2 linked regions of the Homo sapiens genome follow. The protein of the gene in region 2 interacts with the protein of the main gene of each other region in a biochemical or structural test. Each region holds a gene or a part of one and is shown on either strand. Other genes may lie near its edges.

Region 1 (3,166 bases), on a different chromosome or scaffold from region 2:
ATACATCCGGGATGCCTCCTGTTGGGCTGTTGGTCCCCTAGTGGATCTTCATGAAGGCAGGTAGAAACAATGCAGCCAGTTGTCTCTGCCGATTTGACATTTGGTAGCTGGGTCCTTCCTGCTGTCCCCACCTCCCGAGTAATTAGAGCAGCCACTGTGGTAGTGGTGTAAGTGAATGCACTCTTTGTGGCATCCTGACTGGCTTGGCAGAGTGTTGGAGTTCTCTGCTGCAAGATGATGCAGCATAAGCACTTCCGGGCAACTATAATCAGATTGGAACCCGCCGACCCTTCACCCGGAAGGCCGTACCCCAGGCCCAGACAGGAAGCAGCAGGGACCTCAGCTTGGCTGGCTCTGCTAACAGCAGCAGAATTAATCTCCCCAGGGCCTGCAGGACATGATTCATAATTACCTTGGGAACCTCACAGTACAAGACAGACAATAGTTGCCTGTGTCTTAGTCTGTTTTTTTATGGCTGTAACTGAATACCTGAGACTGGGTAATTTATGAAGAAAAATGGTTTATTTCTTACAGTTCTAGAGGCTGGGAAGGCCAAGGGCATGGTGCCCGCATCTGCTGGGCTTCTGGTGAGGGCCTCCTGCTGCATCATAACATGGCGGAAGGCATCACAGGGCAAGAGGGGCACATGAGAGAGAACCAAGCTGCCTTTTTATAACACTCTTGTGATAACTAGCCCACTCCTGTGGTAACCCATTAATCCAGGAATGGGCTAATCCATTCATGAGGACAGAGCCTTCATGACCCAATTACCTCTTAACGGCCCCAACTCTTAATACTGTTACATTGGGGATTAAGTTTCTGTATGAATTTCAAACCATAGCATTCCAGCCCTGGACCCCCCAAACTCATGTCCTTCTCATATACACATATATTAATTTGGTCCCCATATCCCCAAAGACTTAACACGTTGCAGTCCTAGCTCAAAAGTTCAAAGTCCAGAATTTCATCTGAATCAGACAAGACTCACAGCATGATTCATCTCAAGCTTAATTTCCTTCCAGCTGTGAGCCTGTGAAACTAAACAAGTTATCTACTTTCAAAAAATAGGGGCTGTCCCTGGCCCCTAAAAACATCAGCTGGTGGCCAGGCACAGTGGCTCATGCCTGAAATCCCAGCACTCTGGGAGGCTGAGGCAGGATGAATACTTGAGGCCAGAAGTTCAATACCAGCCTGGGCAACAATGCAAGACCCCATCTCTACATAAAATTTTAAAATTAGCCAGGCATGGTGGTGCATGCCTGTAATCCCAACTACTTGGGAGGCTGAGGCCAGAGGATCATTTGAGCCCAGGAGGTCAAGGCTGCAGTGAGCTATGATTGCGTAACTGCACGCCAGCCTGGCCAAGAGAGTGAGACCCTGTCTCTAAAGAAAAAAGCAAAAACAACAAGAGTCAGACGAAATGATATAGTCTGGATATTTGTCCCTGCCCAAATCTCATGTTAAATTGTAATCCCCAGTGTTGGAGGTAGGGCCTGGTGGGAGGTGTTTGGGTCGTGGGGACAGATCCCTCACAGCTTGGTGCTGTCCTCATGATAGTGAATGAGTTCTCTCGAGATCTGGTTGTTGTAAAGTGTGGGAGCGCCACTCCACCCTCTCTCTTGCTCCTGCTTCCTCCATGTGACATGCCTGCTCCCGCTTTGCTTTCCACCATGACGAAAAGCCCCCTGAGGCCTCCCCAGAAGCCAAGCTGAGGCCGGCGTCATGCTTGTACAGCCTGCAGAACCGCGAGCCAGTTAAACCTCTTTTCTTGGCTGGGCACGGTGGCTCGCACCTGTAATCCCAGCACTTTGGGAGGCTGAGGAGGGTGGATCATCTGAGATCAGGAGTTCGAGACCAGCCTGGCCAACATGGCAAAACCCCGGGTCTACTAAAAATACAAAAATTAGCTGGGTGTGGTGGTGGGTGCCTATAATCCCAGCTACTCTTTTGGGAGGCTTAGGTAGGAGAATCGCTTGAACCCAGGAGGCGGAGGTTGCAGTGAGCCGAAATTGGGCCACTGCACTCCAGCCTCGGAGACAGAGTGAGACTCCATCTCAAAAAAAAAAAACAAAAAAACAAAAAAAAACTTATTTTCTTTATAAATTACCCAACCTCAGGTATTTCTTTATAGCAATGAAAGAATGGCCTCATATACCAAGCATTCACCCATTGTTGACCTGGCCCTCTGTCCCCTCTCTCCCCAGGTGAAGAGTCACAGTTTGAGATGGACATTTAAAGCACCAGCCATCGTGTGGAGCACTACCAAGGGGCCCCTCAGGGCCTTCCTGGGAGGAGTCCCACCAGCCAGGCCTTATGAAAGTGATCATACTGGGCAGGCGTTGGCGTGGGGTCGGACACCCCAGCCCTTTCTCCCTCACTCAGGGCACCTGCCCCCTCCTCTTCGTGAACACCAGCAGATACCTCCTTGTGCCTCCACTGATGCAGGAGCTGCCACCCCAAGGGGAGTGACCCCTGCCAGCACACCCTGCAGCCAAGGGCCAGGAAGTGGACAAGAACGAACCCTTCCTTCCGAATGATCAGCAGTTCCAGCCCCTCGCTGCTGGGGGCGCAACCACCCCTTCCTTAGGTTGATGTGCTTGGGAAAGCTCCCTCCCCCTCCTTCCCCAAGAGAGGAAATAAAAGCCACCTTCGCCCTAGGGCCAAGAGTTGGGCCCCGTCTGAGCTTTTTTCAACTCTGTTTGGTAACTAACACCAGCTGCTATCTGTACAGTGCTGCTGCTTTTTTTTTTTTTTTTTTTTTGAGACGGAGTTTCACTCTTGTGGCCCAGGCTGGAGTGCAATGGCGCAATCTCAGCTGATTGCAACCTCCACCTCCTGGGTTCAAGCAATTCTCCTGCCTCAGCCTCCCGAGTAGCTGGGATTACAGGTGCCCGCCACCATGCCCAGCTAGTATTTTTTTGTATTTTTGTAGAGACAGGGTTTCACCATGTTGGCCAGGCTGGTCTCGAACTCTTGACCTCAGGTGATCCACCCGCCTTGGCCTCCCAAAGTGCTGGGATTACAGGTGTAAGCCACCGTGCCCAGCCTTGTACAGTGCTTCTAAAGCGTGGGCCTGTCCTTATTTGATTCTGACTCTGATCCTGTGGGTAAGTAGAACAACTGTTATCCTCACTTTACAGCTGAGAAGACTGGCACAAGAACAGGT
Region 2 (3,500 bases):
GCTGCAGATATTTTACCTACTAACCAAAGCAACATACTACATACTAGTGGACAGAAAGCACTGCCTCATCGGGTAAAAATAATCTGATGTATGAGGAATACAAAAAGCAGTTTCAAACTCCAGCTGTCATTTCCAGAGAGTGTGTTGCCAAAGGTATGAATGAGAATGAGTTATTCTCCTGCAGAAGAATGATGTTCTATCAAACAAAACCGAGGAAAAAAAAAACAAAATTAGAGAGCATTAAAAGAAAACTTCACTCTACGATAGTCAGATGTTAATAGAAAGATTAATTTTGCGGTAGGAGCCAAAACAGAAAATGCTGGGTAACTATATTTGTGGGATTAAAAGCATCACCCTGAGGTAACATATCCTTCTTAAGTTACAACAAACAATAAAATACAATGGACTAGCATATGCCTACTAGAAGTCAAATACAGATGAGACACAGTAAACAAAATATAACAAGCAGACAGCATGTTACAAATAAATGTATACTATTGGAAAAGGTCTCTGTGAACTGTAATTTGTAAACGCACTAGGGTAATTCATTATTTAAAGAGATCTGAGGTTAAATTCTTCACCAAAGCAAAGAACTATATAGAAAGCACATAGTCACTTCTCTAATTTGTCTGGTTTGTAAATCCAGAGTTTCAAATATTAGGTAGAGTAAGGCAATTCACACAACACAAATGGCTAAAACACATTTGAAAAAAAAAGTTCAAGCTCACCCATAATGCAGGAGATGGAAATCTAAAAGAGGGGCCCCTTTTCACCTACCAGATTGGTAAAAAATGTAAAAGATGTATATTACCCGATATCTTCACTGGTAAAAATGAAGAGGAAGTCCCATTAATACAAAAAAATGTGCACTGGAACTCTTGAAGAGCAATTTAGCAGCACCCGTTAAAATGTAAGATGCACACATACACACTTCTGGCTATCTATTGTAGAAATACCTATACTAGTGTCCAATAATGCTCTTGACAAAGGTATTTGTACTAGTAAGAACGAATTACAAAATACCCCTTGATAGAGGAATGGGTGAATAAATTGGATACATCCACACATGCAGCCACTAAGCAGAGTAAGGCAGAACTGATGCTTTGATGTGGAAGAATATCCACCATCTACTGCTGAGTGAAAAGAGCAAGTTGCAAAGTCGTATAAAATTTTGATCTCCTTTTAAAAACTAAGTATGTGTGAGTGAGTGAACGAATGGTTGTCTCAAACAGAAGTTATCTCTGGAGGAGGGAAAAGAGAAGCATATGCAATTTCACTTTTTATTTTATACAGTTTAAAATTTTTATGGGTTTCACTTTTTTAATTTAGGTAAAAGGGAGTTATGTTGCCATGAAACTATTAATCTGCTAATCCACTAAAAGTTCAAGAGATGCTCTGGGGGAAATCATGCAAAACCCCCTAGAGCCTAGTAATACGGCCACTGTGATTTCCACAAAATCTGCTCAGATGAGCGGGTCTAAGAGGAACCAACCTTATTCTAATCAACCTTATTTTTTATTTATGCAGAAAATGATAAAAGTTTTAGAACAAGACAACCACTTTCTCCCAGACAAGCAGTATGGAGAAGATTCAGTACAAAAATTTTCTTATAGATTTATGTAAGTCCCCACCCAAACGAAAAATATCACCAAAAATAACAGATGTCAATCACATTGGCCCAGAACCTTACATCTTTAAACTCCCTAAAGTCATGTTCAAGCCTAGGCTCAAATCTCACCCATAAAGTTCAGGCCCACAACTTTGAGAACTAGAAAGAGCTACATTTTCCTTTCATCTTTTGTAGAGACTGGTATAACACATCTTTCTCTTTCTTCTCTTTTTAAAAGGAATATCCCTTGATTTTCAAATGCAACTCTGAAAATGATACACTCAGTAGGGGTTTTAAGCACATCTTGGAGAAAGGAAGGTAGAATATTAAATGAATAATCATACCATAAAATACTCCCATCTAAAATATGTTTAGAAAATGTATACAAGAAACAAGTTCACAAATTTGAACTAGTTTTTAAAAGGCAACCAATTTACTAGCACAATCTCAAAGTTGTAAAAAAGTACACAGTGCCTTTCTCTCTAATGCACTTAATATTAAACAGTGTTAGGATAATATTTTCCAGGCTAGAATGTACTTTCTGCTTGCCCTAATAATAAATCTATGCCCAGATGGGAAATGGAACCAGAACTAAATAAACACAATATAGACAATGAGCAGGAGAGCCAGAAAAGTTAGCTAATGAGCCTGTGATGCCTTCACAAGCTCTAAAGTGGGTTTCTTCAAAAAGGAAAAGTCAAACAATTAGAATGGAGAGTACAAAAAGTTAGATATTCGATGTGTGTGAAATGCAATTACAGATCAGAGGGTGAAGCAAATGGATTTCTTTCTGTATGTGATGGCTGATATCACGTTTTGTCAGATATGTAAGCTGAAAGGAAAGCATGCTACATAGTCATACCATAGAAATCAGTCATCAAATCATCAACAAAACTTTAAAACATGCAAACTTTGTTCTCGATGACAACTGGTATTCTAAACAAAACAAACCCTTACTAGAATGAAATACGGCCTAAAATTAGTTGCAGTGAGTCCAACTCAATACATAAGTAAAAGCGATGAAGAATAAAAACAAAGAGGAAGAACAAGGAAGAAAAGCCACTTGAATACAAAGTGATTCCATTTTTTTCTCAACACCCACACAAAGACAGCAGTTTCTGACAAGAATGTTCTCGGCAAAAAATAAAATTACAGAAAGGCTTTTTTTTTTTTTTTCCAATGAGAAAAAGGCAGCTCTATATGCAGATTAGTAGGCCCCAATTATTTTTTAAGGCCCAAATTTACAGCCCTCATATTTCAAAATTATCTAAATAACATTTTTTTATTGGAAAGAAAATATGACTGGAAATAATGTTCTTGTTTGGAATGCTTATTTCATGTTGTGCTTGAAAATAAAACCAAAAGTGGTAGCTTACCTTGGCACTGGAAGCCTTGTTTCCCAAACCCCCTGAAAAACAAAAACAAGAACAAAATATCTTAACATATTTTCTGTTGGATAGCATATTTTAAACAAGTTATGTGACCAAGTACTCTACCACTAAAGGTTTGTATGTGAAACCCAATGATTTAATAGAAAAAAACATACCTAAATATCTAGTCAGATTACTGTGTAAATTCAACCTTGGGGGGAAAAAAATCTTGCCTATAAAGGATCACTGAACTATTTCGATGTATCAACCTTTTTTCCAATTTTTTATACTATGTTATCAATACTAAAATTTCAAGACAAGAACATGACTGTATATTCAAACTTGTTGGCTACAACACAATATTCAAGTAACAAAACAGTTTATGGTTAAAATTGTAAAAGGAAGTTGCTTATTTTGTTCCTGAAGACCAAATGAAAATTGTTTTTATCTCCCTAAAGATAACAAAGTGGCTTCTTTTTGTTTAAAATATCACATGTCTAGAAACTGCCAAACGGCATCAC

Evidence for each region. The genes of interacting proteins can lie anywhere in the genome.
Region 1: of the proteins of PRKCA (region 2) and EIF4EBP1, one has a biochemical effect on the other in vitro, tested with the Homo sapiens proteins (one large-scale study listed by BioGRID).

The regions. Positions count from the first base shown.
Region 1 is NC_000008.11:38,057,700-38,060,865, forward strand, and holds the end of EIF4EBP1 (eukaryotic translation initiation factor 4E-binding protein 1), read left to right. Parts: intron 1-2,204; coding exon 2,205-2,236; 3' UTR 2,237-2,666; downstream 2,667-3,166. UniProt on the Homo sapiens protein: Repressor of translation initiation that regulates EIF4E activity by preventing its assembly into the eIF4F complex: hypophosphorylated form competes with EIF4G1/EIF4G3 and strongly binds to EIF4E, leading to repress translation.
Region 2 is NC_000017.11:66,305,613-66,309,112, reverse strand, and holds part of PRKCA (protein kinase C alpha type), read right to left. Parts: intron 3,018-3,500; coding exon 2,986-3,017; intron 1-2,985. UniProt on the Homo sapiens protein: Calcium-activated, phospholipid- and diacylglycerol (DAG)-dependent serine/threonine-protein kinase that is involved in positive and negative regulation of cell proliferation, apoptosis, differentiation, migration and adhesion, tumorigenesis, cardiac hypertrophy, angiogenesis, platelet function and inflammation, by directly phosphorylating targets such as RAF1, BCL2, CSPG4, TNNT2/CTNT, or activating signaling cascade involving MAPK1/3 (ERK1/2) and RAP1GAP.